Homo sapiens: one gene and its partner. The protein of the gene in region 2 interacts with the protein of the main gene of each other region in a biochemical or structural test. Each region holds a gene or a part of one and is shown on either strand. Other genes may lie near its edges.

Region 1 (7,362 bases), on a different chromosome or scaffold from region 2:
AAATATTTCTGATCAAACCTTGTAACTTAAACATATACCATAGAGATAATTCTGATGTTCATGAGAACACTTGGACACAGAAAGGGGAACATCACACACCCACACCGGGGCCTATTGTGGGCGGGGGGGAGGGGGGAGGGATAGCATTAGGAGATACAGCTAATGTAAATATTGAGTTAATGGGTGCAGCACACCAACATGGCACCATGTATACATATGTAACAAACCTGCATGTTGTGCACACATACCCTAGAACTTAAAGTATAATAAAAATATATATATAATAAAAAATAAATAAAAAATAAACAAAAAAATTCTGATGTTCATGAAGCTTCTAATGAACAATTACGTAGCCTAGTTTTGCCTTCATGACATTCTTACTGCTCAGACGCCGCACCCAACTTTAATACTAAACTTTTTTTTTGAGACGTAGTCTCACTGTTGCCCAGGCTGGAGTGCAGCAGCGCGATCTCAGCTCACTGCAACCTCCGCCTCCCGGGTTCAAGTGATTCTCCTGCCTCAGCCTCCCGAGTAGCTGGGATTACAGTTGTGCACCACCATGCCCAGCTAATTTTTGTATTTTTAGAAGAGACGAGGTCTCACCATGTTGGTTAGGCTGGTCTCGAACTCCTGACCTCGTGATCCACGTGCCTCAGCCTCCCAAAGTGCTAGGATTACAGGCATGAGCCACCATGCCTGGCCAATACTAAATATTTTAACAAAATGTTTTACTTTCATGATTTCCAAAAATAGTAACAAAACTAGAACAAAATTTAACACTCTGTATCTTTTTTAAAACATTACTTGTAACTTTTATGATTAGTAAAAACTGTAGTTTTGATAGAAAACAGTCTTGGTGTTATATTGTCATAGGGCTCAGGTACATAATTTTATATGCAAACCACCATTCTCCTAGGTTTTCTATACACATGGCCTTTATGATACTAATCATTCTTTGAAATTATTAAAATTAATGTCCACAACTGGAAAATATGTTCGCTTATACTATTTGGGTAAACAGTCTACATAATGAAAAGGAATTGATGGACCCTCAGACATCACTGGGGAACTTACAAGAGATTCAAGAAACTGCTAAATGAGCAAAGATAGAGGGAATTATTATTCGATGCTTGTTAAATCTTCATGTACATCACCACACCAGCATATCAAGATAGGAAAAATATTACTCAGGAAAGTTAATTCCACATAAAAGTATCCTTTCTATGGAGAAGAACTTAAACCAAACTTTCCACTTGAAGTAATATGAGAATTGGTTTACTGTAACATTTAAGTGCAAAAGAGGAGGTAAGAATGGGATCACTGTGTAAGTTTCATAAAGTAATCAACTAATCTTAATCCTCCCATTTTCACTTGGAAAGGACCAAGAAACCTTTTTCAATTTTGATAAGTCAATCTGATAAAAAGTGAACTATAAATAAGAGACAGCATTGTTTTAGCAGTTAAAACACTTGTTTAAAAAAAACTATCTGGACTCTGACAAGCCGGTTAGATTGACAAGATCTGTGAAATCAGTTTTAGAGTTTTTAAGCCCTGGTATCTTATTCACAAAAGACTGTATAACATGGTCAATATTTAAAGACCTTAAACTATCTTCTCTTTCCTACATTTTTGATAAACATTAATAACAGTAAAGAAACCAGGCGCAGTGGGATTACAGTCCTGAGGCCGAGGCGGGAGGATCACTTGAGGCAAGGAGTTTGAGACCAGCCTGGCCAACATGGTGAAACCCCGCCTCTACTAAAAATACAAAATTAGCTGGGCATGGTGGGGCGCCTGTAATCCCAGCTACTTGGAAAGCTGAGACACGAGAATTGCTTGAACCCGGGAGGCAGAGGTTGTAGTGAGCGAGATCACTACGTCACTGGACTCCAGCCTGGGCGACAGAGTGAGACTCCGTCTCAAAAAAAAAGGAAAAAAAAAAAACAGTAAAGAAAGCCTGTAGTAGATTATCAATTTCTGAAACAGTCCCAAGGCAAATTCAATTGAGAACTCGTTCCACGAGTTCATTGCTTAAGAAAAACAGCGCTTGTGTTTAATCTTTTGGATTAAAAAAAAAATCAGAGCCTACGTCCTACAGTTTTAGTAAAACTGGGCTGAGCAACTGGAAAAAGCCAATGCTCAATCACAGTATTAAAATACAGAAAACTTTGCGGAAAAAAAATAAAGGAAGTCGGGGGGCGGGGTGGGGGGGGAATGCGTTCGCCTCACATGACCACGATGAGCTGTTCTTGCTCCGGTTCTAATTTGAGCTACTCTCTGGATTTTGGGGAAGGCCCACTTTTACACATTCACTCATGAAAAGGGAGCGCACACAAATCCGGCCACGTCACCAGCTGTTGCGCGCGAAGGCAGCTTGGCGGCGTCGGTGCTGGTTCCGGAGGGCGCTCAGCGGGAAGAACCGGGACACAGAAACGGGGGCAGGGAAGCAAAGGGGGAACAAGAAAAGTGGAAGCGATGTCCCCAAAGCAGGTTCCCTTTCCTCCTAAACTTTTTGGCTCTCAGACAAATCCTAAAAGTCCCTCGTCGCAGCATACAAAGTTGTGGGTAAATCCAGCGCAGTGGGGGGCGCACGGCCTTACCTGTGCCATGGCGACTACTCAGGTCAGGGGAAGGTGAAGCAGGACTGCAAAAGAGAAGAAACCTCGGGCTTAGCGCGCCATTTGCAACTCGTGCCCTCCCCAAGCGCAGGTCCGCGGGGACCCGGCGGCGCTCAGACAGCCCGGAGGGCCCCGCCACGGGGCCGACCCGCCCTCTCGCAGCTACCGGGACAGCTCTCGGCCGAGCGTCCGCGCGAATCCAGTGCCCCGCGACCACGCTCTCCTCTCCAGAAGGAGCCCCCTCCCCGGGCTGCGACCACTCACCCAGACTGTGGGACCCAAGTGCCCCGAAACCCCGGGAGAGCGGCGGAGAGCCGGGCGACGGTACGCGGGGCGACGCCGAGATGCAGACGCTGAAGGATCCGGCAGCTGCACCTAGACTGATCCAAGCAACGGAAACGCCAGCGGCCCCACCCCGGCCCTGCCCGGCTTGGCCCGTCCCACCCCCGCCAGGGCCCCAACCGCAGGCCGGCCGCGCCAGCCGGGCCCGCCCCTGCCCCGGCCTCAGCGCGCCTGCGTGGGTCGCGGCTCGTCCCAGTTGGTCTCCCGCGGCGCGGACTGTCCCGCTGGTCTCGCGGGCCTGGGTGGGGAGCGGCCGCAGAGCTGCTGGAACCAGGAGGAGGCGCCGCTCCCCCGAGGGCCCCGGAGACCTCTTGTCCTCGCGCCGCGGGAAGGGCCTGGGGAGCTGTCCAGGGCTCGGGGTTTTGGAGGTGCTTGAGCCTCCCTGCCCTCTGTGACCGCAGGAACCGTAGCCTCACTTGGGTGCTCAACATAGTGCGTGGGCGTCTTTTTGGAGGCGAGACAAAATCATCGCAGCTAAGGACAGCGCGCCTTTGTCGATGGGATAGAAAAAACGTGAAAGGAGGGCCGTTTCCCAAGTTGTTTTTGTTTCTGTTTTGTTTTGTTGTTTTGTTGTTGTTTTAATGCCTATTATTGCTTCCTAGATGGCCCTCTCTTAAATGTACAGCCTTCTAGTAGCGTATGTGGGCTATTTGAAAACCTCTGCTTCCAATCAGTTTCTGTTTTCAAAACTAGCCTAGAACTTTAATATGACTTAAATTTGAGCAATGCCTCATATTGGTTCAACATAAAATATATGAGTATATGAGAGAGAGGGGGAGGGAGGGAGAATCTACAGCGTATTGTACTAGCATGGTGCTGTGTTCTGTGAAAGGGCTTTATATGCAAAGCAGCCCCCAAACGCGAAGGAGTCAAGAAACCAAAGAACGAGACAGACAAATCCAGTCTGTAGGTAATAGGGGTGCTATTGGAGGATGTGGTAGACAGAAGCGTGGCCTTGGGCGGCGGCAAGCAGATAAATTTCTGCACTGTTACTCCCCAGACCCTGGCCTTATATACCGTAAGGAAAGAGTATACTGCTCTGTGCAAGACAATTAAAGGCAGCCCTCCGGAACAGGTGAGAATGCCGTATGCTTCATAGCCTACAATGTGGGCAATAGCATCAAGGTTGACATGTTCTTATGCTAAGGACAGTTTAAAAAAAAAATCCTAGGAATCAGGAGGTATTCATGGGACTGGGGTTATTAAAGGTCAACATGGCGGATTAGCATCCGGGATATAATCACTTTTGTCTCCATATGCTGGAAAAGGAAAAGTAGAAGACACAGGGACCTTCTCAGACTTACTGGTGTGGGGAGGGAAGGTGCCAGGGCAGAGGGGGCAAGAGGACAAGTTTGCGACACTAGATGCAGTGTTCTAGACATATGCTAGAATGGGAAGGGCAAAGTGCTTCTCAACGTGGAGGTTAAGGGTAAGAGATGAGGATCTAGTCTTCTTTGAGAATGAGGAAGAATAAATTAAATGGACAGCAAATGTGGTTCTTTGTATAGAACTTCTCATTCGCTTTCACGTGTGAACCACATGCCTATTCCAGCCCTGACAAAGTCACAACAGAGTGGTTGTTCTCTGGGAAAGGAGGCAAAATTGCAAAATTTGTGGAGCTTGCCAACCCCATCACCCCCACCCCACTGGCGGGTTGCCTTTCCTCTGGGAGCCTCCTCTCCACCAGCCCAGCTGTCTACTCAGCCTCAGGCTCTCCCCAAGTCAGCACCTCCCCCGGGTTTTCTTTACAGGTATTAATATATCTGAAGGCAGCCCTTTTCTGAGCATCTGTCTCCGTTGCTCCAGCTTTTCTACTTTCTCTCTGCCCTGCACCAAAAGCAGGACCTGTAGTCTTGCCTAGAGCATTCTTTTTTCTCACCCATATCCACTTGAACTCAGTTTGCTTCTCTCACTTTCTACTCTCACATTAATGGAGTTAAACAGGACCTCAGAGATCCTGTATTTAACAATCATTGATTTTACAGGGACATGAGACTCATCATGGGTTAGTGACTTGCTCTATGTCCTGCAGCTAAATACTGACAAAATCGATGAGTTATTGGACTCAGAGTCTTGAAATACTCCAGGTAGCATTTCTTTCACTTCCAGTAATATCAGTTTATTCAACTCCTACTCTGGACCAGGCACAGATCTAGGTGCTGGGGTAAACACGGCAAGTGAAACAAAGGCCTTGCCCTCATAGGTCATACATTCTGGTGGAGGAAACAAACAATAAACAAGTATCTAATATGTCCTGTGTGATGCGTGGTATAAAGAAAATAAAGGCTAGGGAATGGAAATGAAGGGAACACTTATTTTGCAAAGGTGATATGAAGCCATTTCTGAGAAGCCTTGAACAGAAACCTAAATTGATACAATTTAATTGTATTTGACAACTATACACTGAGCACCTGTGGAAAGGCCATACCTAAGAGTTTGCACCTTAATATTATAGATAAAGCATGTATATGAACACTACAATGAGAGACTATAAATCAGGAAAGAAATGCCTAGAATGCAATCAAAATGCAATTAGTTTCAGAGGAAGGAGCTAATATTTTGTCAGATGGTTGACATAGCATTTGGATTAGGCTTTTGAGAGAGGATATTTTATCAAACTATGAAGGGGAGAAAGGGTGGTCTGGTTAAGTGAACTGCAAAACCAAGAGAAGGAAAGTATCTCTTTGTGTCTGTGTGATTTGAACTGTCTAAAATGGCTGGAGTGGAAGGTACAATATTAGAGTTGAGAGATGTAGAAACTAAAACACAAAGAAGCTCAGCGACTTATTTAGAATAAAGAGAGATTGCCACATAAAGATTCTGCTTTGAATTGTGTATTTAATTGATGGATTTTGAACAACTGATGTTCTTAACTACTGAGTGATATAAATGATAGGCACTCAGGAAATCTCTTTCACTACCTCTTGTCAGCCTAATAACAAACAGAGAGGGAGACTTTCTAAAAGAAAATGATGTTTATTTGGGAATGGGCATTGCAATGGGAATATGTGTGCCATATTAAACTATTTTGCGTATTCAGGGAGGTAAAGGAAGGCAAAGGTTTTTCAAGGAAGAAGGAAGATTACATCATTGTTTTTGAGATAATTATCCTTGGCTACAGTAATCAATAACTAGAGTGGCACCAGTCTAATGTTGTACAGGCAGTTGCTGGGCAGATGTCTCCGCAGAAGTTCTCATTTTCTCTCTCTCTCTCTCTCTCTCTCTCTCTCTCTCTGTGTGTGTGTGTGTGTGTGTGTGTGTGTGTGTGTGTGGTTGCAATGGCCTTTGTCCAAAGTTGTGGTTTTTGCAGTATTTTTCAATAGTTCTTGTTATCAGGCATTTATGTATTAGAACCCTCCCTTCATGGCCTTCCCCAGCCATTTGTCAGGGATTTGTCTCGTTTTTTAACACAATTGACTCCATTTTGATAAGGACAGCTTTCACACTCTTAAAAACAAGTGTCTGTCATTCATCCCCCAATGGCCTTTATCAGTGTCCAAATGTCATCTTTAGAATCTCTGCCGGATTCGCCAGTTAAGTCTTTCATCTTTCTAATTAAATTTTCTCTTCTTACACATTTAAAAATTAAAGTCCTTCTTTCTCAGTGTATTGTCTTTGTGTTGTGTTCATTATAAGTACTACATAATAATTGTGGGGAGTTTTTTATACTATTCTTAGATATAAATAATGAGTTTCAGCTGTTTTCTATGAGACACTCAGGTCACATCAATTTTCTTTTTATTAGAGAAATATACCAAATGCCAGAGAACTAATTTACAAACACACTTTTGAAACTGTATTTATTTGTTAACTCAGGATTTTCCCTATTTCTCTCAATTATTTGGATCATTCAGGAACTAGCCAATTTATTCTAAATAAGTCGCTGAGCTTCTTTGTGTTTCAGTTTCTACATCTCTCAACTCTAATATTTTGATCATATATTCATGGCCCTACTGTTTCCCTTGATTATAATGACACATAAAGAAAAGAAAATGAGTTACAGGCTTTTTATAAATAAGTACAAAACAACTCTTCTTTAGTTTTAGAGGAATTGGAATCTTGTTTTTTAGAAAATTATAACATTTTCAACCAGTCTACTTTAAAAATTGATTTTGTTTAATAAATATATCTATTGCAAATTATGGCAAGTTAAAGAAGAAGAAAAGATGGCAGGAGAATGAATTGCATGAAGCAGAAGAAACGAGAGAGTGGCTGAGGAGTAAAGTAGGGGCTAGATACAAAGGGAAAGGAGGAACATCATGTCTTCCAGGCAAGATCTGGAAAAAGCACACTCTCTGAAGACAGAGACAGTTGAGTTCAAATCCCTACTCTGCCTGCATACCAGGGATGTGACTTGGACAAATTATGTGATTTCTCTGATCCTTGGCTTCCTTATCTAGAG
Region 2 (7,080 bases):
GGAGGGAAGCCCTCTGGGGTGCCCCCACTATGCTACTGCGTCTCTGAGGAAGCTGGGATATCTCTCTCTCTCCCTTCAGGGTGAAGCTGGAAAACCTGGAAAAGCTGGTGAAAGGGGTCCGCCTGGTCCTCAGGTAAACGCCACCGTTCCCAGCCTCAGGCATCTTTCCTAGCGTCTCCCTCCCTGTGGCCTTAAACACAGTGCATCCAGTTCAATGAGGTCACTTCTGAGATGAAACGCCAGTAGCCCCTATATTTATCACGACCATGTTTGTAATTTCCACTCAGGCTCTCATGAGGGAGGCTGGGCAGTTGTTATTTATACCACTTTGCATAAAATGGGGGGTACGGGGAGGGGTGGTCTGGGTTTTACAGAAAGAGCTGTCCAAGTGTGGGGATTCGAGACAACGCCCTGGTGGCCCAAGGGAACTGGAGGCCCTCCTGCAGCCCAGGGCAGCTTTCCACTGTTATTTTACTCTGTGCTCTGAACACCTCCACTTTGGATTGCAGGGTGCTCGTGGTTTCCCAGGAACCCCAGGCCTTCCTGGTGTCAAAGGTCACAGAGTAAGTATCACGGGTGAGAAGGTTGGAAGGAAGAGATGCCTGGTGGGAGAGAAAAGCACTTTGGGGTGCGTGCATTTCTTCCAACTTGGGTTTCCCAGAAGTCTGATTGAACATTTTCTCTTGTTCCCTAGGGTTATCCAGGCCTGGACGGTGCTAAGGGAGAGGCGGGTGCTCCTGGTGTGAAGGTGAGAGGCCAGAAAGTACAATGGGATGGGGAGGAGGGAGACAATGAGGAGCCCCTCTTCCTAGCCAGGGAGACACTGTGGAGCTCAGTGGAACTAGCTCCTCAGAACAGCCTTGGCTGGGAACACCAGCCCTACATCCTGATGGGCCAACAGCAGGCCTGGAGAGCTCAGGGCATTGTCCCTCACAGGACTGAAGTTTGTGTCAGTGCGAGCTGAGATGACCAGGGCTTTTGGCGTCTTCCCTAGGAGTTTGCTGGCGGCCAAGAATGGGGTCCCAGACACTGACCTTGTGCATCATTTTTCCAGGGTGAGAGTGGTTCCCCGGGTGAGAACGGATCTCCGGGCCCAATGGTAAGTATGGACACCCTCCAGGAAGGTTTATCAAAGACTCTTCAGACTATCAGATGGCTGCAAAGAGCTCCCTTTGTGCAAAGTTCATATTCTGTGTTGTAGATTTCATCTGATTGTGAGCAAAAAGCAAAATGTATTAGACAGATGATTTGTTCAAGATTTCACCAACATTTCCTTAAGATACCCATTTTATCACACTAAAGATGCTCCCATTTAAAAAAATTCTGTTGAGTCTCAACATTTTGTCAAGCTCATCTACTGCAAGGAGCAAGGTGTGCTTGTAACAAAGGTTCCCAATAGGTAGCAACAGGAACATTCGTGTGTTCCGCCTGTGGAGAAAACTGTTGGGTGTGATCTGAGGCATCCTGGCTAGTCAAGGAGCCAGCACCATCAGGAGGTCCTTGTTTTCCTGGGTGTGGGCATCCTCCCTCTCCTCTGGTATCCGCAAAGGGCCTGCAGGTAGAAATGGTCACCCTGAGCACCGTAAAGCCAACTCATGCTTAGGCTGTCCTGGTGTGTGTTCCAGGGTCCTCGTGGCCTGCCTGGTGAAAGAGGACGGACTGGCCCTGCTGGCGCTGCGGTGAGTAATTGACAAAGCCAAACACCACCATTTGCCGAGCACTTTAGAGTTTACAGGTTTGTTTCTCTTGACCCTCGAAACAACCCTGTGAGGCATAGGGAGTATTGTTATCCCTTAAGAATTCACCCCCAGTGTGCCCATCAAAACTTCCCAGGCTGAGTCTGCACAGTTGAAGGAGGAAGGATAGGAATGGGAGGGTCGATGGGTGAAAGCATGATTCTCTTAACCAGTCCAGATTATCAGGTAATCCCTTCAACAACCACCACCCACTCCCTGGGCAATCCAGCTGGAGTTTACAGACAGACTTAGCTGGCTATAGCACCACCGTGCTACTCTCTGTTCTTCCTGGTTGCTCAAATGCCCTAGAAAAGTGGAACAGGTGAGCATCAACTCACAGGGCTCTATGCTGGCTGCTGCTGTGAGGGATGTTATGCTATAGTACCAGGGGCCACCATTCCATAGGCACTTCCTGTGTTTAATACCCTATATGCTTTACTTCATCTCATCTTCCTCCATATCCTGAGAGGTGGTTCTATTCTTCTCCCCATTTTACGGATGAAAAAACCGAGACACAGAAAGGTGAAATAGCTTAAGATAAATAGTGCCTTGCAGCCTTAGACTCTGGTGGCCTCTAGTTAATGTGGGAAATTAAGGGTGAGGGGATTGGCAGCTGATGGAGGGTGCAGGGTGCCAGACAGAGGCGTTTAGCTCTGATTCCTTAGCAATAGAGAGTCCTTGTAGGCACTTGGTCAGGCGAGTGATGCGATGAAAGCTGTGTTTAAGAAAGATTATGCTTTCTGCTGATTTCATACCCCCAACACCCAAGCTCTGAGGCCCCTCCTCACAGGTCCTTGCAGGGCTGGCCAAAATAAAGCAGCTTCACTCCGTTGTGCTGCTTTCCAGCTAATGTGTCTGTTTGGCAGAAGTTTCCCTCAAAGGCAGATCAGTGAAATAAGCAGAAGCCTCGACCCCCCTTTGTCAGCCAGAGCTGCTGAAGTGCCTTGCCCCAGGGTCACTTTGTGTGAGGGGATTAGAGAGCACTGGGGCTGCCAAGAAACACTGCCGTTTCTACAGATTAGCAGGATGCTGGCTTGTGGCCTTTTAGCGAGGCTCAGAGCTGCGGTGGCCCTAGTCTGCATGGGCTAAAGACAAGCTCCATCTCCTGTCCTTGTTCCCTCCTTCCTGGGCACAGCCGCCCTGCTTCTTGGTTCTCTCTGTTGGTTCCTGTCCGCACGGTAGTTAGGCTGGCAGCGTGTGTAGGATTTGGCTTAGAAGATTGACAACATTGCCTTTGAGCCCTTCTTTGCTACTCCTCCCTCTCCCCTCCCATCAGACTCCTCTCTGGAGTCTGCTCTGCGAGGCCTCTGCTCTGTGGTATCCCAGCAGCCTTCTCAGCCTTGACTTCCAGAAGGGGGCTGTGCAGTGTCCGGGGTGTGCAGGCCCCAGACACGGGGTAGGCTCATGGAGATCCAAGTGCTGATCTAGTGTCAAGGCTGGCCTGGAGACTGGGCTGGGTTGGTGTCTGCCTGCTGTGGTCATGTGCCCTCCCTTGGGCCTGTATCCTCTCTCCAGACTTGCTGCAGGGAGAGGTGGCAGATGTCAGCCTAGTTCTGGCCTCTCAGAGCAGCATGGCAGCTCCCTTTCACTCAGGCCCAGGCTGGGCCCTCCTGCTGGCTGACCCCTGGGGAGAGGGTGCTCCAGAGCTCCCCAAGGAACTGCTTCCCGAAGCAGCCAGGCCAGCCCAGAGGGGCTGTGGCCAATCCTGAAGCTTTATGTTCCTGCTGACATTTTTTCTAAGTTTTCTCTTGCTTTCCTCTTAAATGCCAATCTGGAGAGTCTCCGTTAGGAGAAATGGACCCCAGCCAGGAAGAAGAGTTGAGTTGTATTTAAAACACGAGCTCCCCCTAAAGCATCCTTCTTTAGCTTCTAAGGAGAGGCAGAGACTGACAGGCAGGACTCAGCAGGAAAAGGTACCCCCCTGACCTGCTCAGTCAGGCCCTAGGCCCAGCTCCACCCAGCCTGTGGCCCCCAGAGTTTCGGTAAAGAGTTCCCTGGGCCTTAAGGAACCTTGAGAGAGCATTTGAGGGGTGCCACCACAAACTTGGCAGAAAAAACCCTCCCCCTCCAAGTCCAGTCCTAGAGAAGGAGCTGGCAACCTTGCCTTGCTTTGTAAGCAAAAGCCTCTTAGGGCTTGAGCTCAGATGTAGTGTTTGAGCTGTGGCTGGTGCCCTGCCCCATCAGGGAGCCAATGGTAGACATCCTATGGGCATCTTTGTTTTCCGTAAGAGCAGGCTGTCTGGGGATGGGCCAGAGGAAGAGGCAACCTGGAGTCAACCAAGAGGAGGCCTTAACCAAGCCTTAACCACAGAGGTTAACCAAGCCTTGAAAGCGCTTCCCCCTGAGCAGGCAGGAAGCACTGAGTCCACATGGTTGCCTCGCTGTTTCATTTCCTTACACTCAATTCTCTCAGTCTTTAAATGATCACTTGGCCTTGAAGTTACGGATATTTGGGGTCTGAACTGAAGTTGAAGAAAAGAGAAAATGATTTAAGCTTTGTTTAAGATTAGGGGCCAGGTGCGGTGGCTCACGCCTGTAATCCCAGCACCTTGGGAGCCTGAGGCGGGTGGATCACCTGAGGTCAGGAGTTCCAGACCAGCCTGGCCAACATAGCAAAACCCAGTCTCTACTAAAAATAACAATAAAAAAAATAGCCAGGTGTGGTGACACATGCCTGTAATCCCAGTTACTCAGGAGGCTGAGGCAGAATTGCTTGAACTTGAGAGGTGGAGGTTGTAGTGAGCCAAGACCGCACCACTGCACTCCAGCCTGGCGACAGAGCCAGACTCCGTCTCAAAAACAACAACAAAAAAAGATTAGAAGAAGCCCATTACTGCCTTCTGGCCACCCACTCGCACAGACACCAAAACTGCAGCCCACACCTCGCCATCCTCGTGCTCTGCCCTGGGACACCCCAGGCACAGTGTGTCCTTCGTTTTCTGTAAGGGTGGGCTGGGAGCAGGGACGGACAGGGCCTGTGGGCACCTCTCATGGTCACTTCCTTCTTGCTCACAGGGTGCCCGAGGCAACGATGGTCAGCCAGGCCCCGCAGGGCCTCCGGTAAGTTCATTTCATCCTCAGCAGGTCATTGTTGCTGTGCTTTAAGTCCCGTTAAGCAGCCCAAGGCAGTCTGCAGGGTGTATTGGGTGCAACCACAGCAGCACTCTGATGTCTACTGGAAAGGGGGAGGAAAGAGAAGAAGTTTGTAAATATCAATTGAGCATATCGATAACAAGCTTTGAAGCATGGGCTCATTTTCCTCAGCCATCCTTTCAGCAGTCTTTTTAGAGGAGGGAGGTCAAAGGAGTTTCTGCTTCTCACCACAGATGTAGTCAGAAACTTGCTTTGCCTTCTGAAGCCAGGCAAAGTTTCCTGGGGACGCTGGCAATGGGGACAATTTTCATCCAAGGCCTTTTAGCCACAATGGATATGGAGTGAAATCAGTACAGAGGAGGGAAGGAGTGTGAGGTGTCGGGGTGGCTCGCTTTGGAGGCCAGAACTGGCATTCACCTCTCTTCTCATCCGCCTACTCTCTCCAGGGTCCTGTCGGTCCTGCTGGTGGTCCTGGCTTCCCTGGTGCTCCTGGAGCCAAGGTACGTGCCCTGTTGTCCAGTCAGGAACTTCTGGGTGCCGAGAAGCTGTCCTTTCCCCGTAACCCTTGCTCATTGCTCCCTCAACAACCACCTGCTCCCTTCTGAGAAGTAGCTCCCCACCACCCCACCCACTGGCCCCTCCATCCAGGCAGGGCAAAAAGCCAGACACTCGCAGTCTCACCTGGAGGGAAAGTAAGACAGAAGATAAAATGTGGGAGATCCAGTTACAACTTTGGAGTGGGGAAAGGTGGACAGAGAAGAAGACGGGGATACACCATAGGCCTGGCAGGGGCAGAAGGCCAGGAGTGGCAGCACAGGGAAGCAAACCTAGGGGAGACCCAACAGCTGAGCAAGCTCGGGGCCCTGACGGGCACTGGAGGGAACTGGGCAGGGAAAAGGGCACAGGCAGGGAGCCCCTGCTCCCCTCTGGGTTTCTGCTTTATTTGGGGTGCCTGGCTCTTCCAAACCATGTTAACGGAGTTCTCTGGAGGATTACTAGAGGCCAGTGGGAGGCCAGCCAGTTCAGGGACAGGCCTCGCAGCCCAGGAAGGATTCCAGTGTGAACGTCCCTGGGAATGAATAAGGAGCCTCCATGTGTCACTGGCATCAGGTTGCTTTTCCCCTCCTGGGGGTTTCCATGGCAACCAGACAGTGTCTGAGGTCCCGGAGCCGGGTGAAGGAGACCCATTGTGAAGAGGGACAGCGGAAGGTGAGGGGGGCTGACCTTTTGAAAATAATAATTACCACAGTGAAGCAGGAATGTTCTGAGAAGAAACCTGAGGAGGCTCTGCCCTCTCTCCAGGTCAGCAGCCCTCCCCAGGGACTCTGCCATCTAGAGTGGGTTGTAATTTTCAGGAAAAAATGAAAGTAAAAGCACAAGCCATTTTGTGGGGAGGGGGCTTGCCAGAGGCGCCCGCTAAGGGGAATTGGGCTGTATTGAGAGCAGGGAGGGGCAGAGTCCCCATGTGCTTTTGCCTTGGCTTTCTGGCTTACTGAGAACAGACTGGGGCCGGAGCCAGGGTGTCACTGTTCACCCGTCAGCCAGATGGGAGTGAGGTGGTGCTCTGAGCTGGGATGTTCAGAGACTTAGAAGGGACCTCAGCTCCTCAATAAAATAGAAAAACAGGAGGTGGGGGAGAGAGCGGTGTCCGTCCATCATCCCACGGTGCCAGGATGGCAGGGTCCCCAGCCCACGCTTTTCTGATGGTGTCGATGGAACAGCAGGTTGCCCATTGCTGTAGTATGTAGCTGTGCCGTGGCATGTGGAGGCTCACTGTGTAGAGATGAGGTAAGCAGTAGAGGAGGCAGGCGTGGGAAGTCATCAAGTCATCAGCTCGGTCAGGCAGGGAGAAAAACGGCAGCGTGAACTGTGTGTGAACGCACATGTTCATGTGCAGGGTTGGGTGCATGTGCATAATTTAGTGCTGTGCTTGCAGCTGGCCCTGAGCTATTGCCCACCCACTAGAGGTCTGTGTCCCCTCTCTTCTTCTTCATTTCATCCTCCCTGTCTCTTCCCAGGGTGAAGCCGGCCCCACTGGTGCCCGTGGTCCTGAAGGTGCTCAAGGTCCTCGCGGTGAACCTGGTACTCCTGGGTCCCCTGGGCCTGCTGGTGCCTCCGTAAGTGCAGCTTCTCTTTGGCCTGGGGGGGTCTGGGGTCTGTGGCTTTGGAACTCTTGACTCTGTACTTTGCTCTGACAGTTGTGGGCTCCAACCACCAAACCTTCATTCTGGCCCAATGCCTGTCCCCACCT

Evidence for each region. The genes of interacting proteins can lie anywhere in the genome.
Region 1: the proteins of COL2A1 (region 2) and ANXA5 form a complex in vitro, tested with the Homo sapiens proteins (one study listed by BioGRID).

Annotation. Positions count from the first base shown.
Region 1 is NC_000004.12:121,693,981-121,701,342, forward strand, and holds the start of ANXA5 (annexin A5), read right to left. Parts: upstream 3,001-7,362; 5' UTR 2,883-3,000; intron 2,645-2,882; 5' UTR 2,610-2,644; coding exon 2,601-2,609; intron 1-2,600. UniProt on the Homo sapiens protein: This protein is an anticoagulant protein that acts as an indirect inhibitor of the thromboplastin-specific complex, which is involved in the blood coagulation cascade.
Region 2 is NC_000012.12:47,987,477-47,994,556, reverse strand, and holds part of COL2A1 (collagen alpha-1(II) chain isoform 1 precursor), read left to right. Parts: intron 1-79; coding exon 80-133; intron 134-509; coding exon 510-563; intron 564-694; coding exon 695-748; intron 749-1,054; coding exon 1,055-1,099; intron 1,100-1,625; coding exon 1,626-1,679; intron 1,680-4,751; coding exon 4,752-4,796; intron 4,797-5,275; coding exon 5,276-5,329; intron 5,330-6,847; coding exon 6,848-6,946; intron 6,947-7,080. UniProt on the Homo sapiens protein: Type II collagen is specific for cartilaginous tissues. It is essential for the normal embryonic development of the skeleton, for linear growth and for the ability of cartilage to resist compressive forces.